4 linked regions of the Homo sapiens genome follow. The protein of the gene in region 4 interacts with the protein of the main gene of each other region in a pairwise test. Each region holds a gene or a part of one and is shown on either strand. Other genes may lie near its edges.

Region 1 (7,892 bases), on a different chromosome or scaffold from region 4:
ATGGGTGTTATGTGGGTGGCAGTAAAGGATGAGCATTTTGTTCAGCTTGGGTTAGGGGGAGGAGGAAGGCTTCTAAGATAGCTCCCTGGTGGAGATGTCTTCTAAATTAGGGCTAGACAGATGAGTTACAGTTAGCCAGGAAAAGAAATATTCCTAGAAATGGTAAAGACACCTGGGCTAATAAAAGTTACACAACCAAGCTTCAACTTTTAGTTCCAGGCCTCCTGGCAGTCAAGGCAAAACAGGAAAATACAACGTGCTTTTTATTTCTTACCTTTGGAGAAAAGGGACCTTTCTAGGAACTAGCAATAATTTCCAGGAACTAACTAACACATGATTCTCGAGTTTTATCTATCATGCATAAAAATCCCCTCAAACATTACAAATACAGAGTTATGGACCTCAGCTCTAGGGATTCTGACTCAATAGTTCTGGCATAGGGTCCAGGACTCTGAATTTTAACAAGCTCCCCTGAATAATTCTAACATAGGTGGCCCCCTCCAGTGCACTTAAAAAAATACTGCTGTAAAGGGATTTTCCCCCCATTTACTCACTTCTCTGTTCTCTGTCCTAAATGCTGAGGATAGACTGGAGAGCAAGACAGAGAATGCCATTGCTCTCAGAGGGCAATTAGAGGAGGACTGTGGATGTTCAGCAGTGAGCTGCTGCTCTGTCTCTTAGATACGCCCCAGCACCCTCTAGCCCAGAGCGCTGCACTGTGTCCCACGTGTCAACTGCCACTTTAGCTCCTAATCACAATCCTTTACAGTTTCATGTTGTGGTGACCAGGCCATCTACCTAGGCCCTGGAAGACCCTGTCATGGAAGCCCCTAGGATTATCCAAACCTTGCAACAGTTTCTCTGAAGAGTATTGGCAGCCAGGATGCAGAGACAGAGACCCCCAAGGGTGGAGATAGGCTGGTCAAGATGAGCCCGGCTGTGCAGGCTCCAGCTGCCCCCACTTCACGCGCAGTGAGATGGCTGTCAGCCCCTCTCCTGGCTGTGGCTTCTCTGCACACGCTAAATGTCAGCCTAATCCTTCTGCCCCAGCCTCTGCCCTGCCCGGCTACCTCTCTGGGCATTCCTTCAGAACCTGGGACTTCAATCTGCCTCCTCCCTGCACCTTCCTAGCTGGCTTCAGAGTGATACACAGGCCCCACCTGATGTTACTATTATCTTGTTTGAGGGCCAGCCCACAGCCAACCAAACACCCAGGAACCATCCACTGTCACTAGCAGGCATTTAGACAGAGAAAGAAGCTCCAGAACATTTGTATGTGAGTGTCGATGTGAGAGCGTGTGTGTGTGAGCACGTGTGCACATTTCTGAGTATGTGAGTGTGCCTGTGGGTGTGTGTTGGGAGACTGGATGTACAAATGGACAGTGGCCAAATAATATATGCAAAAACAGAACACTGGCTCCCAGCTTGCAGCAACCAACCCCCAGAAACCAATTCACTATCTTCAGTAGCAAGTCTAGGAAGCCAGCCTGCTAGAAATCAAACTTGTAGGAGGTCAGAGCACCTTCTGACAGATTCCCTCATTTTTATCTCCTCTTCTGATCTAGCAGCAGCAAAATATGCACCTCCTCACCAATCACTAGAACTTGCTGCTGGTTCCCCATGCCAGCAGCCTCCCTTCAGGCCATACCTGAGCCTTCCTTTTGTTTTTTTTCTGAAACGACTCTTGCTCTGTCGCCCAGGCTGGACTGCAATGGTGGGATCTCGGCTCACTGCAACCTCCACCTCTCAGGTACAAGTGATTCTTCTGCCTCAGCCTTCCGAGTAGCTGGGATTACAGGTACCCCGCATCATGCCCGGCTAATTTTTGTATTTTTGTAGAGATGGGGTTTTACTATATTGGCCAGGCTGGTCTTGAACTCCTGACCTCAGGTGATCCGCCCACCTTGTCCTCCCAAAGTGCTGGGATTACAGGTATGAGCCACTGCACCCGGCCCTGAGCCTTCCTTTTATCGACTGTAAAGTTATCTCATTCCTTGGCCTGCCTTTGGGTCTGTGCCAAAATGCAGCGATGGTGGCTGACTCTCTTGCTATGGCAAGCTCTGAATTAATATCCATTGCTTGGTTTCATTTGCTTGTGCTCATTTAGTCTTCATTTATTTCCACCATGTGCATGAATGTGTGTGTGAGAGACAGCTGTGTGTGTATCTGAGTGCATGTGCACATCTGTGTGTATTGGGAATGGCAGGATCGGAGTGTGAAGAGGAACGCGGAGAAGGCTGTCTGCACCCACTGGAAGATCCTATCATTTATCTGGATTTGTTCCCTTGGAGTCCCTCTTCTTTTATGGCCCATGGAGTGGTGGTGGGGAGGGGGCGGGGGGAAGGGAGGGAGGATAGGATGAGAGTCACTTCTGTAGCACAGACAGTTGATTGTAAAAGTCACACTCCTTTGTGTAAAGTAATAAAGAGTCCCTAGACATGGTTCCCAGTGTCCCTTCCTGCCCTTCTGAACATGATGAAGCACCATACTTCTTTCCTGCTTTCAGACAGCCAATGGCAGGCTCCAAAGTGGCATTACCCCTGCCTGTGTGCCACTCACTCTGAGGTTCCCCTGTGCCCCACATCTGGGACTGAGGCCCTGACTTCCTGCCACCAGTGCATCGGGATTTAATCTGAGGCTGGGTGGCTATTTGCCTAAATTAATGGTTGCTAAAATTAAAACAGAGGTAAATAGCCCTTTACCTACCACACAGCCTCCCTGGGATTTTAACTGCAGCAAAGAGATCATTGAGGTGCTACCATTTTCTGATCAATCATGGTAATTTTCTTCCCCCTAAGATCAGCTTAATCATGCTAAGGGTCTTAGAGAGCACAGGGGTCAAAAGAAAATTACATGGTTGGGCAGGATTTCTCTGCAGCTCCAGTTTATTTTGTACCTCACTCTGATTTAGTGTTGCACTGCTCAGAAGCAATGCATAGTGCACTTGTTGAAACAGTAATGAACTGTTTGGCCATGTCATGGGGCTCAGCAGAGGTCCACAGAATAAGACAGTCTGTGGTCCAATCCACAGACACCTGACTGCAAAAGCTTCCACAGGGAGCTGAAGTTTAAGATGAAAGAAACGAAGGCTGACAACCTTGCCCTTGACAAACATTTGCCTCCAGCCTGGGATTCAACAATGTTTTAATAACATTTAATAATATTTTAATAGGGCATAAATGGTAAAATGGAGAGAACTCCCAAGCCCTGGGCCTGCTTTCTTGCACGTGTGTGTCACAGCTGCAGAAACACGTGCTTGTACAGGAATAATTGCCACCCCAACTCAGTACCAGCAGGTCTTGGAGCCCGTGATCTATTCACATGCTCAGCAAGTGTTTAATTAATAGTTCTTTCTCTGTTGTTTTCAAATCAATCACCCAGTTTTGAGCACGTCTATTTTCTCCTGCTGTTTGTTCTGTATTGTCACCTGTGGTGCAAAAAGCATATTTTATCAAGAATTGACTTAATTGCCAGTTTAAAACATTAAAGTGCATACTGTAAATCCATTAACAAACTGATCCTTACATGAATCACCAACCTATTTCTTGTGAATAATAACTGAGATAAACAGTGACTAATGACATTGAAAAGCAGCAATGCATTAAAGAAAAATTAACAGCTATGTCAGGGGCTAAGGAATTCCAGTCACCTCATACGTTTGCACCAACCAGATCACTGAAGACAAACGACGGGAAGTCATGACTCAGATGGTGATCTGCAGGGAAAGGTTTAGAGATGAGATGTGTCTGATGCCTCAACACTACCCCTCTCTCCATCTGTCTGTCTCTCTTGGCACCACGATTATGAAACTGCATTCTGAATGCTTAGGCCCTAAACCTAAACCAAGGGAAGGACCTCCAATAGAACACCCAACACACACTAATCTCCACTGTATACTAGACACAACCTTTCTGTATTGTTTCGATTGGATAGGATTTCTACCATTATTCTATTTCGTTTCTGTCCTGTTTTGTTTGTTGTCTGAGAACTTGATTGTCAAGTAAGAAGGAAGGAAGGTGAGATGCAGATTCACCCCTACCTCCACCCTCAGAGCATATTCTCCTTTGGAAATGGACCTTGAAAAGATCATTTCTCTCTGGGGAAGCAGAACATAACCTTAAGGTGTGGGTGTGGCATCCACCTCCATCTGGCGTGGGCCTTGGTGGGAGGAGGGCATTCCAGAGTGGAGAAAGGAGAATGGACCTGGCGGAGAGAAGTGGTCTGGCAGTTTTCTGATGATGCAGTTGTCCCTGCTGTCTGGGCCTGCGCTATCCAACACAGCAGCCACTAGCCACTTGGAGTTATTAAAATTTTATAAAAATTCAATAAAATTTAAATTCCATCAGCACTAGCCTCAGTTCAAATGCTCAGTGGCCAATGTGGCTGATACTGTATCAGACGGCGCAGACTTGGAACATTTCCATCAGGGCAGAAAGTTCTACAGGACAGCTTCTTCCTAGGGTCTAGGCAGCCCCGGAGCCTCACCTGGGGGATAAGCAAAATCACAGAGTGAGAATGCGTGTGGTCCAGGACCCCTCCCAGTCCCAGATACCGAACGACATCTGAGCAAGGGACTCTGTTGCCCCGGGGACGGTTTCAAAAGCTGGAGGCCGGGACTCCAAAGGGCTGGAGAGGCGTGATAATAGAACCAGTGCTTCAACAGCAACTTCTCTTTTGCAATCCTTGCTGGTCTGACAGGCTCCTGCAGAATTACATCACTTCCTAAAAAACAGGCACACACCTCTCCTTCAAGTCAGCACCGACCCAAACAAGCAGGAAACAGGAAATGTTCACGTTTCAGAGAGGCTGCAGCCCGGCGCAGCATCCTGAGCGCGCCTCTGCCGAGGCGAGCGGACATGCAGGCTCCCCGCGCAGCCCTAGTCTTCGCCCTGGTGATCGCGCTCGTTCCCGTCGGCCGGGGTAAGCCGCCTCCACTTCCTACTCCTGGGAAGGAGGATCGCAAAAGCTGGTAGGGTGCCCGAGGCTACAGAACTCTGCCGGGGAGGGTGACACCCAGAAAATCTAATCCTTTCTGTGAAAGAAGTGGAGAAAATTAGAACTCCTTTTTTTGGGGGGTGGGATGGAGAGGGGACTTCGCTTTCGCTGCAGCTGTCTAAACTGGCTACAGCTCTCACTTCATTTAACCCTCTTTCAGTCTTTGTCTTCCAGGAAGTGTGCGTCCCTGTAATTTACCAGCTTTAATGGGCATATTAAGAAAACCATAAACTTTTTGGCAGTTTATGTAAAAAAAAACAAAAGCTTCAATTGGCTGAAACAGAGACATGATTAATTTGCTTTTTATGGTGTGGGCTGAGAAGTCTGCTGATTCCAAAATCTCCTGGAAAAACTGGGGTGTGAAAATTTACTACTAGAAAGCATACTAAAGAAACGACATAAACTTAAAAAAAAAAAAAGGAAACGGGAAATTATCCGAAGAGCTACCAAAGAGCTATGTGTTAGAGGGTAGCCCTCTAACACATCAAGTAAGGTCTTTCATCTACTTTTATTGCACCTTGTTACTTTTACAGATTTTTTTTTTGCATTGATTGTTACTAATGAAGATTTGTTTGAAAAAGTAATATGATTGGAACCAATCAAAGGTATTGGAAAAAACAATATTGAATCTCATTATTATGGGCTAAAAGCAACAACTGATTTACACCCTTGCCAGTTGCTACAACAAGCACAAGCACCTTCAGCTGCCTCTCTTGTTGACTTGCCTTTGGGCAAATACACTGGCTGCCCATTGTTTCTGTCAATGAACACCGACTGCTTCTAGTGTAGGGCAGTATTTACCAAGCAAAAGGAAAGTTCTCAAGCTACAGTTCTTTAGATAGAATGAGGGACATCAGCCCCAACCTAACAGATGTGACAACTTCCTGGAGGTCAGCAGCCAGCACCCAGCCACCCCACTCCATCAATTTCTCTTCCCCTGGGTGTTCTCCATGTGGTCCCCCAGGCATCTGAGGTAGAAAACAAAGTGGAAGGCAAATCATTCCAGCTGAAAAGATGTCTGGTTAAATTGAGTTTAGTGTTCAGAGTGGGTTTGGAAGTTGATGTGTTGTTTTATGCCCAGTGTTTTGGAGCTGGAAGGGAACTTGAAGATGATGCAGCTCAAACCATATTGGGCACACAGGTGAAGAAACAGAGGTGGAAGAAGGGAGATGTCTGGGTCTTGCTGCTAGTCAGCTCTTCTGGCTTCTACTCCAGAGTTCTTTGAGCTCCTCCACCCCCCACCACCACTGCCCCCCTCCCCCCACCGCCGCCCCGGAACCAATCACTGTCTCTGCCAAGAGCTCTGGAACCTTTCGTAGTAGGACATCAGGGAAGAAAAGCCTAGCCATCCTCCTTCCACCTCTTCTATTGCACAACACTGCCACAGGTGCCTCAAACACTCCCTTAATACTAATTCATCTTGCCTGAACTTTTTTTTTAGCTTCTAAAAAATGATTGAGTCCTAGTGTCTGCAATTCAGGAGATGCAAAAAGAGAATCTGAAGAGACTTGGTTAAAGTTGCCTTTCTGACACCTGAATCTGATCGTGCACATCTTCCCCCTTAAGGACCCCTCATTTATGCCCCTTCACTTGTTCCTCATTTTTGCCCCTTAGACTCTCACTGCAACCTCCTTCCCAGTGGCACCTCCTTCCAGTTGTCGTCCCCCTCCGTGGCTCTTGCCTATAATGAATACATTCTTTTTCCTACCTAGCAAATTCTTGTATCACCTTAAAAGTATCAAACTAAATGTGATCTCCTCCTTGATGTCTCCTTTCTCTGCCCCTTCCCTGGAGCTCTACTCGTACCTGCTGCTGTGCCCCGATAGACCTAAACTTCTGCTAATCACTTTGAACCATAATTGTGTCCATGCCTCCCAACTGGCTGTGAACAGCTCCAGGGAAAATCCTCTGTAGTTCACCTTTGACTTTCCAAAATCCTGTAAGGGCTCAGCATAAATGAGAAAATAATTGTTGATAAATATGAAAATCATCCCTAGAATGGATATGAGGCTGATTACAAAAAAAACTGATAGCTCCTGAAAACAGGTAGTGTTGGAATGTAAAGAGAAGTCAAAGATGAAAAGTTGCATTTCAGTAGAGTGCAGGGATTACCTAAATAATCCAACATGCTAATTGGGCCCTGCTGGGATTCCCAATGTCTGAAAAATGCCCACTTGCAAAAAGCTGTTGAATAAAAGCTATGACTTTGAGATGATTCATCATGGAAAAGGTGATTTTAAATTAAAGATTTTTAAAATTAATTAATGTACACTACTTTTAGCTAATAGTGCCTAAGGCTTCAGGATATGAGTTACTTTCTAGGTGTCACAGGTATATTTCCTTGAATTCTTCAAAAAATACCTGGGGATGTTTGTTAGATGAATCCAACCTACTGAAGGGCCTGACACTGTTTGTGAGTATACTCTGAGATGTATCTCAAATTAAGCCTTTATTAACAACGAGCAGGCAACATGAGATAATATCTGCAGTTGCATGAGACCAGCACTGTTACCTCTGAGTCAGCGACCTCTTCTCTTTTTAGAGATAGATAGCCTGACATAGAATTGAGTTCTACCCCAAGAGAAATAATTCACTTGGAAGTCACCAGGAGAGAAATAAGAAAGCAGCTTTTCTGGGACTATAATGGAATGGGTGAGCATAGTTAAAGGAAAGCTTGGGCCTAGGTGCCTTGGCCAGTGTAGGATCCTAAGAAAGTTCAAACTCAAGGAGATGTTCTGCTCATGGAGTAAAGTGGGGCAGGGGTGTCCCCGTCTCTGTTCTTTATGCCCTGTCAGTGTCAGCTTAATACTATCAGAAAACCAAAAGCAATTTCCTAAATACCAAAAGCATGGGATTTGTTAGTTGCTAAAAGCAGAATTGTTGCAGAAGGGAGAGCT
Region 2 (7,357 bases), on a different chromosome or scaffold from region 4:
ATGAATTATGAATGTGGGCTTCATAAAGACCCTTCATGCTTCCTCATTCTCCAGAGCCATTTGGTCTCCAAGCTCAGTCTACCAAGCCTGGAAATCTCTCCCTAAACTACACCTCCTCTCTAGCACACTACTCCAGCACAGGCAATTATTCGACAAGTTCACCTTGATCTCTGGCAACTTCTTACCCTTTAAGATCTCTGCCTCCAACTGGGAGCATTCTCAGAGCCATCCCTTTGCAGGGGGACTCTAGAGCAATGTTTTCTGGAAGCACACACCTGACAAGTCACTCTCCTGCTTAAATAGCTTTTAAGCAGAAGAAATTGTAAGAAAGAAATTTTTTTTTAGACCAATATCCTTGATGAACATTGCTGCAAAAATCCTCAATAAAATACTGACAAACCAAATCCAGCAGCACATCAAAAAGCTTATCCACCACGACCAAGTGGGCTTCATCCCTGGGATGCAAGGCTGGTTCAATATACGCAAATCAATAAATGTAATCCAGCATATAAACAGAACCAAAGACAAAAACCACATGATTATCTCAATAGATGCAGAAAAGGCCTTTGACAAAATTCAACAACCCTTCATGCTAAAAACTCTCAATAAATTGGGTATTGATGGGACGTATCTCAAAATAATAAGAGCTATCTATGACAAACCCACAGCCAATATCATACTGAATGGGCAAAAACTAGAAGCATTCCCTTTGAAAACTGGCACAAGACAGGGATGTCCTCTCTCACCACTCCTATTCAACATAGTGTTAGAAGTTCTGGCCAGGGCAATTAGGCAGGAGAAGGAAATAAAGGGTATTCAATTAGGAAAAGAGGAAGTCAAATTGTCCCTGTCTGCAGATGACATGATGGTATATCTAGAAAACCCCATTGTCTCAGCCCAAAATCTCCTTAAGCTGATAAGCAACTTCAGCAAAGTCTCAGGATACAAAATCAATGTACAAAAATCACAAGCATTCTTATACACCAATAACAGACAAACAGAGAGCCAAATCATGAGTGAACTCTCATTCACAATTGCTTCAAAGAGAATAAAATACTTAGGAATCCAACTTACAAGGGACGTGAAGGACCTCTTCAAGGAGAACTACAAACCACTGCTCAATGAAATAAAAGAGGACACAAACAAATGGAAGAACATTCCATGCTCATGGGTAGGAAGAATCAATATCGTGAAAATGGCCATACTGCCCAAGGTAATTTACAGATTCACTGCCATCCCCATCAAGCTACCAATGACTTTCTTCACAGAATTGGAAAAAACTACTTTAAAGTTCATATGGAACCAAAAAAGAGCCCGCATTGCCAAGTCAATCCTAAGCCAAAAGAACAAAGCTGGAGGCATCACGCTACCTGACTTCAAACTATACTACAAGGCTACAGTAACCAAAACAGCATGGTACTGGTACCAAAACAGAGATATAGATCAATGGAACAGAACAGAGCCCTCAGAAATAACGCCGCATATCTACAACTATCTGATCTTTGACAAACCTGAGAAAAACAAGCAATGGGGAAAGGATTCCCTATTTAATAAATGGTGCTGGGAAAACTGGCTAGCCATATGTAGAAAGCTGAAACTGGATCCCTTCCTTACACCTTATACAAAAATTAATTCAAGATGGATTAAAGACTTAAATGTTAGACCTAAAACCATAAAAACCCTAGAAGAAAACCTAGGCATTACCATTCAGGACATAGGCATGGGCAAGGACTTCATGTCTAAAACACCAAAAGCAATGGCAACAAAAGCCAAAATTGACAAATGGGATCTAATTAAACTAAAGAGCTTCTGCACAGCAAAAGAAACTACCATCAGAGTGAACAGGCAACCTACAAAATGGGAAAAAGTTTTCACAACCTACTCATCTGACAAACGGCTAATATCCAGAATCTACAATGAACTCAAACAAATTTACAAGAAAAAAACAAAAAACTCTATCAAAAAGTGGGCAAAGGATATGAACAGACACTTCTCAAAAGAAGACATTTATGCAGCCAAAAGACACATGAAAAAATGCTCATCATCACTGGCCATCAGAGAAATGCAAATCAAAACCACAATGAGATACCATCTCACACCAGTTAGAATGGCAATCATTAAAAAGTCAGGAAAAAACAGGTGCTGGAAAGGGGAGAAATAGGAACACTTTTACACTGTTGGTGGGACTGTAAACTAGTTCAACCATTGTGGAAGTCAGTGTGGTGATTCCTCAGGGATCTAGAACTAGAAATACCATTTGACCCAGCCATCCCATTACTGGGTATATACCCAAAGGACTATAAATCATGCTGCTGTAAAGACACATGCACACGTATGTTTATTGCAGCACTATTCACAATAGCAAAGACTTGGAACCAACCCAAATGTCCAACAATGATAGACTGGATTAAGAAAATGTGGCACATATACACCATGGAATACTATGCAGCCATAAAAAATGATGAGTTCATGTCCTTTGTAGGGACATGGATGAAATTGGAAATCATCATTCTCAGTAAACTATCACAAGGACAAAAAACCAAACACCGCATGTTCTCACTCATAGATGGGAATTGAACAATGAGGAAACATGGACACAGGAAGGGGAACATCACACTCTGGGGACTGTTGTGGGGTGGGGGGAGGGGGGAGGGATAGCATTGGGAGATATACCTAATGCTAAATGACGAGTTAATGGGTGCAGCACACCAGCATGGCACATGTATACATATGTAACTAACCTGCACATTGTGCACATGTACCCTAAAACTTAAAGTATAATAATAAAAATATATATATATATAAGAAAGAAATTTTAAGAAGAAATTCTAAGTTCTTTTTACAGCATTCAAGACCAACCAAGAAATTGCCTCTGCCGCCCTCTACATACTTAATGCTTATTGCTGTCTGCCTTATCATCTATGCTCTGGTAAACAAAAGTAACCTGCTTTTTTGTGACCCCTTTCGTGGGTATTTTTACTCCCCTCTGACAAGAATGCATTATTTTTTCTCCTTTATCTGAGTCTTTAAGACTCAGCCTACATGTTCCCTCCTCCGGATATTGACTCTAGATCCGTGAATCTGAGTTAGTGGTTCCTTTTAGAGGACCTCACAAGGAGCCAGGCATCTGTCTATCACTACGTGCCCCCACCCTATTGTAACTAAGCACTGCATTCTCACCTCTCTATTCAGGTGGTCCGCAGAGCCCATGTCTGATTGATCTCTATGTCTCCAGCAGCCAGCAAGGAAGCACCTCTTTAGAGACCTGCACCTATACAATACCTACCACCTTTTATTTCTCGATATGTGAACTCCATTGAGAACAAACGAGTAAATGTAGGTAATGTGCCTTCTTCTTTTCTTTTCTTTTCTTTTTTTTTTTAGATGGAGTCTCGCTCTGTTGCCCAGGCTGGAGTTTAGTGGCACAATCTCGGCTCACTGTAACCTCCGCCTCCCAGGTTCAAGCGATTCTGCCGCCTCAGCCTACCAAGTAGTTGGGATTACAGGTGCCCACCACCACGCCCAGCTAATTTTTTTTGTATTTTTAGTAGAGGTGGGGTTTCATGATGTTGGCTAGGATGGTTTTCAACTCCTGACCTCAAGTGATCCACCCACCTCGGCCTCCCAAAGTGCTAGGATTACAGGTGTGAGCCACAGCGCCCAGCCAGTAATGTGCCTTCTTAAGTTCTGTGAGCCATTCTAACAAATTATCAGAACAGAGGAAGGGGTTATAAACATCCCCCCACCCCCGATTTATAGCCAGTCAGTCAGAAGTACAGGTGGCCACCTGGGACTTGGATTGGTGTCTGAAGTGAGGACAGTTTTGGGAGAGTGAGCCCTTTAACTTGTGGGATCTGACACTAACTCCAGGTAGACAGCGTCGGAGCTGAATTGAATTGTGAGATACCCAGTGGTGTCCCCAGAGAACTGGAGAATTGCTTGATATGGAAAAGACCCACACATTTGATGCCAGAAGTACTGCATAAGTCGAGAATTGAGTTTGACTTAATCATCATATTTGGGCTTGATTGCGTGGCTGAAACTCTTCCCACTTCAGTAATTGTTTCTTTCATTTTCATGAAACTCTGAAGAAGGAAGGGCTGGACATTCAGATTCCTTGACCCTTGACATTTGGAAGCATGAACTCCAGTCTCTCACAGAAGGCTAGAGGTGAAGGAACATTCAGACACATTGGTTTCTAAGAAGAGTCCGCTGACAACATACCCAAGGTGTCTTCTGAAAATTATAAGAAATCCTGAGTTTCTGTTAGGGGATTGGCTCCAGCTCCATTGTCCCTCCCCCATCATTCAGTAGTCTCCGCGAAAGCCCTTAGAGCCGGTGTTGCTCCACAGGAAGCCAAGAAGCACACAGGAAAAGGAGCTTAGCTGCTGGTAAGTTGGGGACTGACAATTTAAAATTTATCAATGGAACTCCTGCTCTCTGACAAACACCTCCTAAATTCTAGAGCAGTGCTGTAATGGAGCATCCACTTGCCACAGGTGGCTTTTGAGTGCCTATGTTTCTATCTTGATCTGAAATGTGCTTAAGTGTAAAATATACTTAGTGTAGTTTAATCATTAGTATGATCAAAATAATACAATTTATCTCGTTAATAACTTTCATTTTGGTAACGTGTTCCAATGATTTTTTTTATTTGCGGGGTTAAATGAAACATATTATTATAATTAATTTCTCCCAATGATTTTACTTTTTTAACATGGCTACTAGAAAGTTGTAAGTCACGTGTGTGGCTGGCATTTAGGGCTTGCATTACCCTGTCTCTACTAAAAATGCAAACAACAAACTAGCCAGGCGTAGTGGTGGGAGCCTGTAATCCCAGCTACTCAGGAGGCTGAGGCAGGAGAATCGCTTGAACCTAGGAGGCCGAGGTTGCAGTGAGCCGATATCGTGCCATTGCACTCCAGCCTGGGCAAGAAGAGTGAAACTCTAACTCAAAGATAAATAAACATGTGAAGGAGCCAAGTGTGAGGAGCTTAAGAGGAAGAGCATGGTAGGCAGAAGGAACAGAGAAGGCAGAAGCCCCGAGATGACAATGAGCTGCATGTTCAAGGAATCAGAGCCCGTTATGGGTGGAGCCCAGTGTGTCCCACGAGAGTGCAGAGATGAGGTCTGAGGAATGCACAGGGCAGGTCCAGGGGTACTTGAGGGAACTTAAGATAAGGATAAGTTAGAAGTTTGGAAGCCATTAGAAGGTGTTGAAAATAGCATCACCATTTTATTGGACCTTTTTTTTTTTTTTTTTTGAGACAGAATCTTGCTCTGTCGCCCAGGCTGAAGTGCAGTGGCGCAGTCTCGGCTCACTGCAAACTCTGCCTCTCAGGGTCAAGCGATTCTCCTGCCTCAGCCTCCCAAGTAGCTGGGATTACAGGCACCCGCCATCACGCCCAGCTAATTTTTGTGTTTTTTTAGTAGAGACGGGGTTTCATCATGTTGGGCAGGTTGGTCTTGAACTCCTGACCTCAGGTGATCCACCCACCTCAGCCTCCCAAAGTGCTGGGATTACAGGCATGAGCCACTCCCGGCCCTTATTGGACTTTTTTTTTTTTTTTGAGACAGAGTTTTGCTCTTGTTGCCCAGGCTGGAGTGCAATGGCACGATCTCAGCTCACTGCAACCTCCGCCTCCCTGGTTCAAGCGATTCTCCTGCGTCAGCCTCCCGAGCATCTGGAATTACAGGCACGTGCCACCACGCCCAGCTAATTTTGTATTTTTAGTAGAGATGGGGTTTCTTCATGTTGGCCAGGTTGGTCTCGAACTCCTGACCTCTGGTGACCCACCTGCCTCGGCCTCCCAAAGTGCTGGGATTACAGGTGTGAGCCACTGCACCTGGCCCTTATTGAACTTTTTAAAAGCTCATTTGGTTTCCTTCTGGAGATTGGATTGTAGGGCAGGGGAAAGTAGGACCAGGAACAACCTATTTGCAAAGTTGGCGCAAACATTCCTGCCTGACAGGACCATGGACACAGGTTGTAGAGATAGAGATGGCTCTGGCTGTGCATTCAGCAGATTCTGTAGATAGAATTAATAGGACTTGGATGGGATTGTGGTGAGAGAAAGTGAAATGAAAGATAAGTTCTAGTTTGGAAGTTTTAACAACTGAATGTTTAAACTCAAATAGACACAAAATATTGGAAGAGTGGCAGGTTTGGGAGGATGAGACAATCAACTGTTTGGTTGAGCCACGTTAGGTTTGAAATGTCTACGGGACTCCCGTGGGGAGAGGTTATATCAGACTGGAGCACCAGAGAGAGGCCAAGGCTGATAGTTTAGATGAAAAGAGAGCATGATATTTTAAGCCCTGAGACTGGATAATATCACCTATAGAAAGACTATATAGAGATAAGAGAGGTGGGGAACAAGTAAAAGCTGCGGGACACTCCTAAATTTAGAGTCAAATTTAGAGCAGAAAATACTAGCAAAGGGGACTGAAAAGCGGTGGCCAATTGAGCTTCAAATGCAAGTGAAAGTGTGTTGTGTGTACATTTATCATCTCATGGCACAGGAAAAACGTGATTTAAGGAGAAGGAAGCGATCCAATGGGAAGAAGAGATCCAATGGATCCTCTATCACGAAGATATTGAGATAAGAACCAATATGGATTTGCACCCACTGCATTTGCAGCCTTGAGGTCATAAGCATCCTCAGGAAAATGCACCAGGTCAGTGCTAAGGACTGGAGTCAATACAGACTGGATTCAGGAGAAAAAGTGAGGCAGGGAATCAAAGGGAGCAAACACAGAAAACTCCTTCCAAAATCTGGCTGCAAATTCTTTTCATAGAAAGAATTCTCTCAGGAGAAATAGGGTTAACACCAGAAAGGAATATAGTCCAAGATCTTTTTGGTTGTTTTTTGTTTTGTTTTTTGGGGTGGTTTTTATTTTGTTTTTGTTTAGTTTTGTTGTTGTTTGTTTGTTTGTTTTTGAGACGGAGTCACTGTTGCCCAGGCTGGAGTGCAGTGGTGCGATCTCAGCTCACTGCAACCTCCGCCTTCCGGTGTTCAAGAGGTCTTCCTGCCTCAGCTTCCCAAGTAGCTGGGATTGCAAGCGCGTGCCATCACGTCCAGCTAATTTTTGTATTTTTAGTAGAGATGAGGTTTCACCATGTTGGCCAGTCTGGTCTCAAACTCCTGGCCTCAAGTGATCCACTTGCCTCAGCTTCCCTAAATGTTGGGATTACAGGTGTGAGCCACGGCACCTGGCCAAGGATGGTTTCTTTTTAAAGGGAGGGGATATGATTTATGTAATGTTTATGTAATAGTGAGAATGATCTAGTAGAAATAAAATCTTGAGGGTTTGTTTTTGGCAGAAAATGGAAGGACAAATGCAGGGGGAAAGTTTG
Region 3 (7,135 bases), on a different chromosome or scaffold from region 4:
GGGAAGACATAAAATGTTAGCAATGAAATGCTAGTTTACATTTGTGCTTATAATCAGAGGACAGCGTCTTCAAGCATAGAGTCTGGGGTCAGGTAGATATGGATTTGAATCCAAGCTCTGTCACTTTCTAGCTGTGTGAATTTGAGACACCTTCTGTATAAAATGGTATCAAGAGATCGTCACGAGGTAATATATGTGACATTTTGAGTATAGTGGTTGATTCATAGTGACTGATAAATGTTAGCTATTATTATCATGGTTAGCAACCATCAAAAGCTAATGATTAAGGAGAAGTAAATGGATGGACAGGAGAATACCACCCTGGGCAGCAAAACCTGCCTTTCTCAATGACTCAGTTGTGGAGAACCAAGGAAAATCATTCAGCAGGCTTGGTAGTTTGCCAGCCTCTCTTCATTTACTGTCCTCTGGGAATGGAGGTGAGAGGCTCAGTTAATCTGAAACCATATCTCTTTAAAGTGACTTCAATTTCCCCATGCATTCAAACCATCTCAGGTTTAAATTGTTTCAATGTGTTTTGTCTGTATCAAGCCAACAAAGTGGGAGAATCAATGCATCTTATTTCCTTTTTTTAAATTTTATTTTAGGCAAAAGGCCAGAGCTCTGGAAAGAACATGTATTTCTTTACCATTATAATTTCATTATAATTTCTGGTTAGACTAGATACAGATCATGAATTGCTTATGGGAAATTCTCCACCCATTTTTTTACTCTCACTATTTAGGACTGAATCCCACAGCTGAGTTCACTGTTATTTTACTCTTCGTAGCCAATGTTTCTAGTTTCCAAATTTCTTCAGCTTTCATTAATTTTTTTGTTCATTTAATTATTTACCTATATTCTTCTCCTTTCTCCTAAAAGGATTTGATGCAGTTATAGTAATATATTTTAATAATTCCTGGAAGATGAAAAAAATAGAGAACAGGTTTCTTTTCCTAGTTTTAATTTTTACATGGAATATAAGCAAAAGAGTCCTATATTCCCCTCCTTTCCACATCGTTAGTTATGACAGATTGAAAGAAATTCTGGTCTAATCTTAGTTATGTCTTGCAACTCTTCCATCTATTGCAATTGCATATTGAGGGAAACAATGATGAGACAAGGCCAAAGCATAGTAACCAGCTTCATTACAATATTGATAGAGATAATTTGACCTAGAGCCTGTAGTCTTATTGCTCAGGCATCAACTGTTGAAAGAGACACTGCCTTCTTTTTTTGTTTTAAAATATAACTGCAATACAGAGGAGTCAAGAATAATGGAGGTAAAGTACACATAATTCCACCACCCTCGTGAGTCTTCATGCATTTATTTCTGGTGTTTTCCCACATATGTCTATTTGACACAGCTGCAATAGTAATTTACCCACAATGTTATTGTGTCTCTTTTCACTTAACATGAAATAATGTGCATTTTCCACGTTGTTACATCTTCATAATTATAATTTTCACCACTGTATGAAGTGAATGTACCATAATTTATTTTGCTACTTCTCTGTAAGATGCTTCTTCTAGTTATTTACTATTATACCAATGCAGCCACAAACATCTGCACACATAGCTCTTCCCTTATTTTGGATGATTTCCTCAGAAAAAATGATGAGATGTAGGATTACTGAGTCAAACGACATAAGCATTTTCATGGATCTTGATATATTATACCAAACTCTTCCCGAAAAGACTGACATTTATTTGTAGTGCAGCCAATATTAGTTATGTACTTATTTCATAGCAACATCAATAGCATTGGATATTAATATTTTAAAGTTTATTAATTTAATGTGCAAAATGAATAACTAAATGAAAATTGCTTTACAACACAGCTATTCAAATATAATAATTAAAAACCCCTAAAAGATGTAGAAATAGATTATAATGAATTTTCTTCTACATTATTGGTGGTCTGATTAGCTTACAGTCCATAATGCACTATTTTTAGAAATGACTTGACCAGGAAATTGTCTTTTCCTCTGAGTTGCCAACATGATTTACTCTCAGTTTGTTTATTTTTAAAGAACACAAAGTCATCAGGAAAACGTTCATGGATTCTTGCCATTGATAATTCAATTTACTTTTCAAAAACTCCCTCCATTATTAGGGTCTAATGTAGGACTATTTTAATGATGACACAGCTCATTCTTTAATAATCATAATTACAACAGTCACTGGCTATCTACTACATGTCAGTCTCTCTCCTGGGCACTTTATATATATTTTATCTTTAAAAGTAAATGCCATTATTCACATTTTTCACATTAGAACACTGAGGCTCAAAGATACTGAGTAACTTGCTGAAGGTCTCATGGAACAAATGACAGAGCTTAGATTTACATGCAGGTTTGTCTGAATAGCCAAGTCTCTGCTTTTTTTTCATGCTGTCCTAATGCCCCTTCAAGCTAGAAAAACATGAGTGCAGACAGAAAATCTGTTCTAGAAAACAGTAATGCCACTGAAGATCAAATAGCTTAAATTGATATGCAGGGTTCATGAGAACATACTGTTTTTACAGGCCAGTGTCCCACAGACTTTCATTAGGACTAATTTCCTGCATTACTGAGGCTGCATTGCTGAGCAGCTTATTGAAAACAGAGCTATGTCCCAAATGCCAGCAGATTACCTGCCCCTTCACCCCCATCCCTCTTTCAAATCCTACACCCAAGATTAGCAGAATGATTTTTCCATTATTCATTACTTCTACTAGTTACAAGGTAAGTCTCAATTACAACTCCCCCTTCTCTCCCAAGTCTCCAAATTCATACTTACCATGATGCCTGAGAAACAGATTCCTTCAAAATACCACACGTAGTTGGTGAGTTTATTGCTGGATGCATAGGAAGTTTGCCCATTCGGGAAATACAATAATATGTTCACGATTATACTCCAAAGTGCAAGCGGAATCAGCAAACAACTTAGGCAGCCTCCACACTTCCGAGACCCCATTTTGCCCTGCTTAGAACCTGCGGGAGATTTCAAGAGTATACAGTCACAGAAAGTCTATTTTTCTTCTTCCTACCTGACCTTTTTTTTCTCTCTCTCTCTCTTTTTTTTTTTTTTTTTTGAGATTACCTACCACTTCCAGGGTCAGAGCCCTTCACTTCATATTCATGAGGAGACGGGGAATTGGAATATACCCGCAGCCGACAATCTCAGTGTGAAATACTGGTTTACTGTTTGGAGAACAATAGACAATGATCAACAACTGAAGAGCTGAGCTGGTCTTCATCCTGTGCCAAAGGAATGCGGTGTTTTTCACTGCTTTTTAAAATAAGTAATTTTCCTCTGGATTAAAGCACCGAAGGCTTAACCCTGACCTTGTGTTAAGAAGGAAGTTGGGGTGGGAACTGGAATTGAATGCAGCAAATTTCATCCAACAGTGGAGAGAGGGTTAAAGAGAAAACTACCAAGGAGGCTTATATTTAGAGCTTGATAGGTTTGTTAAAATATCCTGACTTTACCCTTTTTATGTATCTGTCTTTCACCTAGTGTGCTTTTTGTGTGCACACTATTCACCAAGCTTTGTTCAAATTGCAAGGGATAAGAAAGGACTGAGAAAGTGACTGGTGGATGAGAAAAACAAAATATCTTGGTTAGATCAGTACAGCTTTCCTTCCAAGAGTTTGCATCTATTATCTCTACCTCTCTGAAAAATCATAACAGAAATAAAGGCATATTTTTCCTACTATTAAGAAAACAAAGGTAGGGCTGGCGCAATGGCTCAAGCCTGTAATCTCAACACTTTGAGAGGCTGAGGCGGGTGGATCATCTGAGGTCAGGAGTTCAAGACCAGCCTGGCCAACATGGTGAAACCCCATCTGTACTAAAAATACAAAAATTAGCTGGCATAGTGCTGGGCACCTGTAATCCCAGCTACTCTGGAGGCTGAGGAAGGAAAATCACTTGAACCTGGGAGACGGAGGTTGCAGTGAGCCGAGATCGTTCCACTGCACTCCAGCCTGGGTGACAAAGTAAGACTCTGTTTCAAAAAAAAAAAGAAAGAAAGAAAGAAAGAAAGAAAGAAAGAAAGAAACTAGCAGTCCAGGTTCCAAAGAGGTTTCTTGGCACCCCCTTGTGGATATGGTTTTTTTTCCCTCTAGTGCTTTTGATCTAAGTGCATCAAAAAATCTGGGCATTAGACGTTTTTTCCAGTCACATAGAAGCAGCATAAAATCATATTTACTAGAGTTCCTGGGATGATTGGGAAGAGAATAACATTGTTGGTTGAGCATTCATTGAGCATCTCTTATGTGGCAGGCACTGTGCTTGATGTTTTAAAAGGTTCACTCTGGCTGCTGTGTTGTAAATAGGTGGTAAAGGGTGTGGAGGAGATAGAGATGAGTTCTGAAGCCATTTCCACCATCCAGGTAAGAGATAATGATGACTCGGATCATGATGGTAGTAGCAGCAGAGGTGGTAAAAGGAAGCTGGATACCAAACACCGCATATTCTCACTCATAGGTGGGAATTGAACAATGAGATCACATGGACACAGGAAGGGGAACATCACACTCTGGGGACTGTTGTGGGGTGGGGGGAGCGGGGAGGGATAGCATTGGGAGATACACCTAATGCTAGATGACGAGTTAGTGGGTGCAGAGCACCAGCGTGGCGCATGTATACATATGTAACTAACCTGCACAATGTGCACATGTACCCTAAAACTTAAAGTATAATAATAAAAGAAAAAAAAAAGGAAGCTGGATTTGGGATATATTTTGAAGCTTGTGCCAACAGGATTGGTGGCAGATTGGATGTGGGTATAAGAGAAAGAGAGAAGTCAAAGACGACATCATTTGGGCCCGAGAAACTGGGAGAATAAAATTGTCATTAACAGAAATGAGCAAGTCAGCTGAATGAGCAGGGTTGGGAGAAGAGGAATGATATGGTCAGTTTCGAATGTGCTAAGTTTTGAAATACCTTTTAGAAATCCAAGTGGAGATGTCAACTAGGCAGCTGGATATACAAATATGAAGTTCAAGGAAGAGGTCTGGGTGACATATAAATGTGACAGTTGTCAGCATATAAATGGTATTTAAACCCATGAGACACTAAGGAAATGCATGTTGATAGAAAAGAGACCCAAGGACTAAATCCTGGGCAGCCCAGGACTGAGTTTAGGGACATGAGAGGAAGGCAGAAAGGATACTGAGAAATGGCCAGTGAGCCAGAAATGAAGATCAGGAGCTTATTCTCAAAGGTGACTTTCTAAGAAGAAGAAGGCGTGATCAACAAAGTTAAATGCTGCCAAAGGGCACATCATACGAAAGAACTGAGAATCGGCTATTGGGTTGAGCAACGTGGAGGTCACTGGTGGCCTTCATAAGAGGAGCTTTCTTGGTGAGTTAGAGATGAGATGAGAGTCCATCTGCAGTGGATTCATGAGAGAATGGGAGGAGAGAAATTGGAAATAGATGAGGTAACTCTTTTGGAGAGTTTTGCTGTAAAGGAGGGCAGAGAAATGGGGCAGCAGCTAGAGGAAAAGTAGAAGTCAAGGGACAAAAATTAATGGAAAAAATGGTAGCATATTTGTATACTGTTGTGGGAAGGGGTATGAGGGAGGGTAGGTAGGTATTTACCATAAAGGAGATAAAGGAGAGGATTGCTGGCACAGGCTCCTTGAGTAGGTGAGAAAGGGTGGGAGTGTGTGAACAGATGGAGGAGCTTACCTTAGATAGCAGCAGGGCAGGTCAGTGTCAGCAACAGAACAGAAGGAGAACATAGCAATGGGCTTGGAGGTGGTTAGCGGGAACTTCTGATTATTATACTTCTGTTTTCTCAGGGAAACAGGAGGCAATTTTATCAGCTGAGAATGAGGATGGGGAGAGGGTGTTAAAGGTTTAAAGGAAGAGAGGAGAAGTTCAAACAGTTGGCTTGGAAAGTGGGAGAATGAACAGACTAGAGAAATGTGGCAGGTGCTGAGGGACCACTTGAGTCTGTGACCGTGAATGGATAGTGAGACTGGACAGGAGACTTGGGTATTTTTCCTAGTAAGGTTCAGTGGCAGAGGTGTAGCCAGCAAGTAGGAAGAAAGCTGGAGTCAACCAGGATTGGGACTTTGCCAGGCAGATACCATGAAGAGAGGGATGGGCAAAGGATTCAAGAATGTATGCAAGTGAATGGTTATAATGATGGACTGTGGAACTTAAGCTGAGTAAGGAGGGAAGTAAGGACGTGAGGGAGTGTGAGAAATAGTAAAAGAGGCACTGGATTTGTAAATTGTGTGTCCCAGTGTGGCTGAAAAATTACTGGTTTTAGGTAACACACAGAGTGAGCTAGAAAGAGAGGAAGTAGTGATTGAGAAGTGTGATGCTGGAATTTGAGATTTTAGAGATGTTTCAGGAATAGGCGAAGAAAAAGTCTGGAGGTGTGTTATGGGCTGATCATGTCTCTCCTAAATGCACATGTTGAAGTTCTAACCCCCCATAATCTCAAACGTGACTGTATTTGGATAGGGCCTTTAAAGTGATGATGAAGTTAAAATGAGGACAGCATGGTGGGGATAATCCAATCAGATTATAAAAAGAGGGAATTTGGACACACAAAGAGATTCCAGGGGTGCAAAGAGAAAAGACTGTGTGAGGACACAGTGAGAAGTGGCTATCTGCTAGCCAAAGAGAGAAAGGCCCCAGGAGAAACCAATCTGCCAACACAGATTTGGCACATAATTTACAAATCTGCTTTGAGATTTGGCACATAACTTACAAATCTGCTTTGACCTTGGAATTCTGGCCTCCAGAACTGTGAGAAAATAAATGTCTTTTGTTCAAGTCACCCAGTCTGTGGTGTTTTGTTATGTCAGTCCTAGCAGACTGACACAAGTTGTGATCCTAGGAGTGAGTAGTGTAGGGAGGTGGAGGACAAGATGACTGGTGAAAAGGAATGGAAAGGGAAGTGTATTGGAATTATCATTTATAATGAATACTAAAATAAAAAATTAGACAATGTCAGTTTGGGAGAGAATGACTACATTTAGAAAGCCAGGTGCTAGACTCTTCAAGGAATGAAAGAAAATAAGCTTGAGGGAGGATTTAGAACTAGAAATACCATTTGACCCATCCATCCCATTACTGAGTATATGCCCAAAGGATTATAAATCATGCTGCTATAAAGACACATGCACATG
Region 4 (7,233 bases):
CCCAGATTCTCAGTCTGTGATGAAATAGACAGAACACCAAGCTACCAGGAAGGGCACCTGCCTCCTAGATCGGAATCTTCGTCCATTCGCACTTAGGTGATCACTTGCCTTCGAGAGCCCCATCCAGAAGACGGGAGTAATGAGCCCTGCTCTGCCCATCACGGGCCGCTATGAGGATGCAAAAGCACTTAGGAAAGAATTTAAATGCTACACAGGCACACGATATTGTTACGCACAGTCAAAGCTGGTGCATCGGGCACTTCATCATCCAGAAACCTCTTTTACCTTACAATGTGAGATAAACTTATATACCTTTCTATAATGCCTTACTTGTATGGGGGGAAAAAAAGGCAGAAGTGAGCTGACAAAACACAAACCTTTTCCCTTAGGATATTCCAGGGCATGTCATAAAGCGAGACGCACAGGACAGAGGGGAGCAGTGGCGCTGAACCACAGCCGCAAAGGCCTGAGTTCACAGTCCGGGCTGTCACTCTCCACGGGGCTATTCCCTCTCATCTTGGTTTCACCTATAAAATGGGCTAAACCCCACCTGTCCCATCCTCTTTTTCTGGCAGACTCGAGTGAGTCTGTGTGTGTGGTGGCACTCTGAAAACTGTACAGCATTTGCCAGTTACTACTCTCCTGTGCCCCCTACGATGAACAATGGAAATAGATACTAAAATCAGTGCCCTTAAATGTGGAGAGGGAAGGATCATATACTATTTGCTCTACTTTTGGTTAGGGTTGGGAAGTTTCATAATAAGGTGTTTAAAAAAACAAGTGGCCCTAAAGTACTTTCTGAGTCACCACGGAAAGCCATTATCTTTATGCTACTTTGAGATTAGGAGCATTTCACTAACTCTAATTCTCCCATGTTGCACTTGGGATGACGCCCTATGCACTCGGCCAGTGGGCTGTGTGGAAGCCCCATTTCCTGGTGTTGGCATGCATGTGTGTGGGACACTTCGGGTGTTTCTAGTCCTGGTCTCTCTCACAGCCCCTTTCAGACTCCTGAAGGCTCCTCAGGGCAGGGCCCATAATAAAAGCTGTGCCCACTGCAAAAGCTAGCCCCATCCTTCCCGCCTGAACCCCTGTCCAGGCCCTGATGCAGACGGTGATGGCAACAGGGGCCAATCCAGGCACTGAGCATCTCACCTTCCACCTGATGGCTGCACTTCAGTTCTCTGCTTTCTGGGGCTCTGTTGCTGGAAAGAAAACCAGAATGGATTATAGTGTATAGACTCCTCACCCCCGTGGGCCACCCCCAACAGCAGCCGTGTCTCTGCCTGACTCTGGGGGAGCAAAGAGGTGACGGGCATGGGATTTCGAGTCAGAACGATCTGGGTTCAATCCTGGCCCTGCTACTTGCTGCTTACAGGAACCTGGTAACCTCTCTCAGTCCCTCGGTTACAAAATGGGGACAATGATGCCTATTTCAGGGCTGTGTGCCCATTAAATGATATGGGGTCTGTGCCTGGCACAAGCAGATGCTCTGTAAATAGCAGGTGACACTAGTAGTAGCCTGTTTGGTGGAGTGAGGGGGCAATGCTGCAGAGGCCCTGGAGACCCACTCTCCTGGCACTGCGGGAGCATGTCTGGCTGGCCATGCACCTGGCAACAGTCCCTTCCTGAGCCACAGAGGGGTCTCTCTGTTCCCTCTTTTCCACCTGGGCAGGTGGTCACGGACAGTTACCATTGGCGGTGATGAGGTTCTCCACCTGGGCTTCCTCATCTCCTGGGGCCCTGCAGGAGAAAGAGACACACAGCCCCATCAGAGATCTCCAGGGCAGACCCAGAGAGCATCGTTCTGCTCCTCACTGGGGCACAGCTGCCTGCAGTCAGGCTCCTCCCAGTGCCCTGAGGGGCTGGAGCTCACTCTGCTGTGGGATGCATGGGACAGAGGGAAAGGTCTGGACTGAAGGGTCAGACTCAGAGGGAACTTACAGGCACCCTTCAATGTCAGCCCTCATGGGAAGGGGAGGCTAGGGCCACATGGGGGCTTGGGTGTGTCCTGCCACACGCTTTGGACTTCTGGGGTCCAAGCTACCCTTGGCTATTATAGTAAACTAATGGGGTATGACCTCTATGTGGGAGTAGAAAGAAGGTCCAAGTGTCTATTCAGCTCAAAGAGCCTCATGAACAGGTGACAAGTGGGGACTGTGTCGCAGGTCCTGTAGAGAGGACCTGGGCATCTAGAGAGGCCAGGAAGCCCTCTGCTTCCCTTCTCCCAAGCTCAACTGTCCCAAGGGCCTCCAGAAAAGGTTCCAGTACTTTCTTGTCCACTCCCCGTCCCCCACATAGATCAGAAGAGACAGGATGGGCTGACCTTCAATGTTTTGACCTCTCCTTTGCCCCAGAGTCTACCTGGCAGTCCTCAAACTTCCAGCCCTACGTCCCAACACACACGTTCTGCCTCCGAGACAAGAATCCAAGAGAATGCCCATTTGGGGGTCACACACCAGGGGTCCCTTCCTGTCCCACCTAGTATCACCCCCCCAAGGCCACTGCCACGGCATCCTTACCGGGGCTTCTGATTGAAACTGCACTTGCACCTGCGACCTGAAAAGCAAAGAAACCATCCAAGGTCATGCTGCTGGCTTGGCCACAGCAGGGCCAAGGGTCTGTGCAGGTTGTGGGACTATGTAAATGGCACCCCCTAGACCTGGGCAGTGCACAGTTTGCACAGCTGCACACAGTGGCCCTCGGATGGGGTAGCTTCTTCTGGGGCAAAGGAAATACATTCTATAGCTGGAATGGCTACACCCCCACAGCCCTCTTGATCATGTGAGTAAAGAGGGATCTGTGCAGATCAGGCTCATGTGGGAACAACAAACTCGGAGGCACATCCCTCGCACACTAGGGCAGCACCTGTCTCCTTCCTCCGTGACTGCCCCATTCATGCCCTATAGACACAGCACTGGGAAGCCACCCTGCTCGTTCCTATCTATGCTCATTGTCATATGACATTTTCTTTGTTCCCGTGTCACTGTTTTACTGAGCACTTACTATGTGCCCAGCACTCTACTGGGTCGTGAAGATAACACGGAGGGCAGGCAGCCTCCTTTCCTCTCCAGGAGAGGGACCAACCAGGCTCTCACACTGTCCCCACCTGCTTAGCAGCCTCAGTCATTGCTCTTAACAGAGTGAGCAAAAGAACAAACTTACTTAGGATAAGGAGGATCCCAACCGAGAAGAGGACCACAGCGAACACCAGTCCCCCAATCCTCAGGGTCTGGTAATCTGCCAAAGGAACCAAGGGTGAGAGAGGAAGGGGCCAGGGAGAGGGTGTCTGTTCCCCCTACCCCTCCTGCCAGGCAGGGCTGCATTCCCCCTGACCCCTGCACCCAGGGTTGCCATCGCTCACCATAATGAAAAGGGTCCATTTCCTTCTCCTTTTCAGCTGCTGCAAAAACAAACAGTTGGTCAAGAGAAAGAAAGCTACACAAACTGGTTCCCAAATATCTAACCTTGCCTCACAGACCTCAGTCTCCACAAAGGAATTCCAGAGGAGCAGGGCCCATTAAACAGAGATGCCTAGAGGTGCACGGTAGGGCGGGCCTGCCAGTTAGGGGGTTAGGGGAACCCTAAGGGCCGAGGTCAGTGAAGGCATCGAAACTCAGTGAGGCTCTGAGTCATGCAACACCCACATTCATTGCCCCTTTGTATTCTTACATCATCCCCAGAAGGCAGGGTCAGTTTTCCTCTTGTGACACACGGAGAAACCGAGACCAAGGAAGGACATATGACTTGCACGAGGCCAGCACTTGCTAATATGGTCTAGAGACTGATGTGCAGGTCTGAATCCCAGGGTTCAGGCCACAAATCCACAGAGGCGCAGTGAGCTTGCGGGGCTTAAAAACTACTCCCTGCCGGACCCTTAGGGGGCGAGGGGGCAGGCTGTGCTGAGGTCTGTGAATAAATAGCTGCCACCTCCACGACTTTCTCTGCTGACTGAAGGGAGAGGCCCCTGACTAGACATGAAGAACGTGAGAGTCCCCCAGCCCTAATGTCCCAAGGGGCCCAGAACCTTCCAGCAGAGAGGGCTGGACAGGGTTGTCATCTTGTCACAGCCAGGTCCCAGAGGGGTACTTACCACTGGCCAGGACCATGGGGGCCAGCAGGCTGCAGAGGAAGACCAGCACCAACTCCATGGCGTCTGGGGACAGAGGGAGGAAAAAATGATTCTCTGGCTAAGAAGCCTCCATCCGTCAGCTCCAAGCGTCAGCCTGACCAGGGGCCAAGCCAAATCCCCAGCTTTGCTCTGCACTCATGACTTGGTGAGGGTTCAAACAACCTAAGCACAAGCAGTTGACTTTTTTTTTTTTTGAGACAGAGTCTCGCTATCTTGCCCAGGCTAGAGCGTAGTGGCATGATCTCGGCTCACTGCAACCTCCGCCTCCCAGGTTCAAGTGATTCTTCTGCCTCAGCCTCCTGAGTAGCTGGCATTAGAGGCGTGTGCCATCATGCCCGGCTAATTTTTTGTATTTTTAGTAGAGACAGGGTTTCATCATGTTGGCCAGGCTGGTCTCGAACTCTTGACCTCAAGTGGTCCATCTGCCTCAGCCTCCCAAAGGGCTGGGATTATAGGCGTGAGCCACCACCAGTTGACATTTCTTGGACTCTTAGAGAATGCTCTGCATGTATTAATTCAATTGGCACAATTGAGTTAGTACAATTAGCAAGCACTACAACTAACGCAGGCCGAGAACCTGAAGCTTAATGAGGCTGACATGCACCAGAGTGAGTAGCAGGGCCTAGATCCTAACCCAGCATGGTAACTCCTCCACCACGTTGCCTCTGGGACGTGACTTTGAAGATCTCAACTGTGTCCTTCTCTCCAGGCCACCCTTCTGTGGCCATCCCTAGTTCATTCTGACAGCCAATACCCCATCAGAAATGTCTCTTAATATCAGACTAAATGGGGCCAGTAAACCAGTGTCCCTCTAGTCTAGCCAGCTGGGTGGAGAGGAGACTTGTGGTTTCCTGGGCCCTGAAGCGCTGACAGCCCTCCTTCAGGTACCCTTTACGTCCCACCTCAAAAGTCCCCAAGTCAGCTCTTCCCACAGGCTTTGGTTCAGAATCCTCCAGAAAGGTGGTTTGATTCTACAAAAGGAGTTTGAAGGCTGGTTCCACGAGCCTCAGCACCCCAGCCTCTGCTTCCCCAGAGGATGCGGAGGTCTCTGCTCAGGAGCTCATCAGTCCTGGTCTCTGGGTGGATGGCCCCAGGTGGGCTATCCTGGTGGAAGCAGGAGGCAGGGCCAAGAGGTGGCACCCAGGGATAGATTTCAATGGCAGGACACACATCTCACTCCTGGGCTTAAAGGAGCATGGTTAAGAGCCAGAGAGGAGACAGAGAGGCTTTTCCTGAACCAGGAAAGCCCAAGGCTGGGTGCTGTTTTCCATGTGGGGTGAAACTGGCAGTGGCCTGAACCCCTGGACATCCGTCCAGTCCAAGACCCTGATTGCCCCCAGCACGGTCACTACCTTCCTCCGGCCTTGAGCAAGCAGCCGCCACTGCACTTCACCTCTCGGCCACCAGGGGTCAGAACGACTGCATCCACAGCCACGTCAAGGCCCAAACCTTGATTCAAAAAGCCTTTATCAAAAGGTGGTAATTTGCTTTCAATGCTGTCTCATTTCACACTTGTATTTCCTTTGAATGCTACACTGTATCTTATATGTATAAAAATATATGTAACATACACATATAATGAGGCATAGTAATAATAGAAACACCCATAAACCAGCAGCTTAGGAAATGGAGCTTTACAAAGACTGCTGCAGTGACCTCTATTTCCCTCCACCCCATCCCCCTGCCTCTCTCCCAGAGGTGGCCAGTATCCCAAAAATATATATTTTTATTTTTATTTATTTATTTATTTATTTTGAGACTGAGTCTCCCTGTGTCGCCCAGGCTAGAATGCAATGGTGCGATCTCGGCTCACTGCAACTTCCACCTCCCGGGTTCAAACGATTCTCCTGCTTCTGCCTCCCAAGGAGTTTGGATTACAGGCATGCACCACCACACCCAGCTAATTTTTTGTATTTTTAGTAGAGACAGGGTTTCACCATGTTGGTCAGGCTCAAACTTCTGACCTCAGGTGATCCACCCACCTCGGCCTCCCAGAGCGCTGGAATTACAGGCGTGAGCCACCGCGCCTGGCTGAAAATACATATTTTTAATCATTCCCTTGCTCTTCTTCTAAAAAGCTGCCAATCAACAGATATAAAATTTCAGTTATGCAAAATGAGTAAGTGCTAGAGATCTGCTGTATAACACTGTACAGCATAATTAACAATATTGAATTGCACACTTCAAGATATGTTAAGAGGGTAGATCTCATAGTAAGTGTTCTTTCCACAATTTAAAATATACAATTCACACATCAGGAAGTTTGCCATCTTAAACTGTACAATTCAGTGATTTTTAGAACATTTACAAACTTATGCATTCGTCACCAATCTCGGGTTCCAAGACATTTCATCCTCCCAAGAAGAAACTTGTATCCATCGGCAGTCACCCCCGACTCCCCTTCCCTTCAACCCTGAAACCATTCATCTACTTTTTGTCTCAATGGGTTTGCCCACTCTGGACATTTCACATAAATGAAATAATAAAATACATGGACTTCTGTGTCTGGCTTTCAAGTTAGCATAATGTTTTCAGGGTTCATCTACCTTGTAGCATGTATGCATATTTTATTTCTCTTTATGGCTGAATAATATTCCACTGTATGGATATTCACCTTGCTCTTTGTCTTAAAAATATATTTAACACGTACATATATCTAAATATTATGTTGCTTAGTGTAGCTTTTTTGAACTTTATAATTATGATATCATGTTTATAGTCTTTTGAAACTTGCTTTTTCTGTCCGACATTATGCTTCTGTGGTTCACTGACTTACTACATTTAGCTATAGTGCATTCATTTTCAGTGTGGTGTAATATTCCATTGTGCAGGTAAATGATCATGTAGTGCTCTAGTCTCCTGCCAATGGATGTCTGTTTCTTTTTCCCCCTCAATTTTATGCTATTACAAATAGAGTTGTGGACATTTTTGTGCATACTGCTCAGGGCACACATGCAAGAATTTTGAGGAAACAGTTTTTTGATTCTTTGATCACCACTCCCATAAGAAATACATTTTACATTGCAACCCAGCATAACACAGATTCATGTAACCAGAAGCAATTATCACAAAATAATACTTACTATGAATGAGATAGTTTC

What was found.
Region 1: the proteins of FXYD6 (region 4) and TMEM154 interact in binary tests that used the Homo sapiens proteins (3 or more experiments, as listed by UniProt).
Region 2: the proteins of FXYD6 (region 4) and FPR2 interact in binary tests that used the Homo sapiens proteins (3 or more experiments, as listed by UniProt).
Region 3: the proteins of FXYD6 (region 4) and TM4SF18 interact in binary tests that used the Homo sapiens proteins (3 or more experiments, as listed by UniProt).

What each region holds. Positions count from the first base shown.
Region 1 is NC_000004.12:152,676,898-152,684,789, reverse strand, and holds the start of TMEM154 (transmembrane protein 154 precursor), read left to right. Parts: upstream 1-4,792; 5' UTR 4,793-4,856; coding exon 4,857-4,920; intron 4,921-7,892.
Region 2 is NC_000019.10:51,756,840-51,764,196, forward strand, and holds the start of FPR2 (N-formyl peptide receptor 2), read left to right. Parts: upstream 1-4,340; 5' UTR 4,341-4,391; intron 4,392-6,522; exon of another isoform or gene 6,523-6,678; intron 6,679-7,357. UniProt on the Homo sapiens protein: Low affinity receptor for N-formyl-methionyl peptides, which are powerful neutrophil chemotactic factors. Binding of FMLP to the receptor causes activation of neutrophils.
Region 3 is NC_000003.12:149,330,428-149,337,562, forward strand, and holds the start of TM4SF18 (transmembrane 4 L6 family member 18), read right to left. Parts: upstream 3,210-7,135; 5' UTR 3,086-3,209; exon of another isoform or gene 3,077-3,085; intron 3,012-3,076; exon of another isoform or gene 2,973-3,011; 5' UTR 2,956-2,972; coding exon 2,779-2,955; intron 1-2,778.
Region 4 is NC_000011.10:117,838,626-117,845,858, forward strand, and holds part of FXYD6 (FXYD domain-containing ion transport regulator 6 precursor), read right to left. Parts: intron 5,582-7,233; exon of another isoform or gene 5,485-5,581; intron 4,157-5,484; 5' UTR 4,152-4,156; coding exon 4,094-4,151; intron 3,404-4,093; coding exon 3,365-3,403; intron 3,241-3,364; coding exon 3,166-3,240; intron 2,560-3,165; coding exon 2,523-2,559; intron 1,744-2,522; coding exon 1,694-1,743; intron 1,206-1,693; coding exon 1,177-1,205; coding exon of another isoform or gene 1,156-1,176; intron 1-1,155. Other genes in the region: FXYD6-FXYD2 read-through protein isoform 1 precursor, read right to left, coding at 1,156-1,205, 2,523-2,559, 3,166-3,240, 3,365-3,403, 4,094-4,151. UniProt on the Homo sapiens protein: Associates with and regulates the activity of the sodium/potassium-transporting ATPase (NKA) which catalyzes the hydrolysis of ATP coupled with the exchange of Na(+) and K(+) ions across the plasma membrane.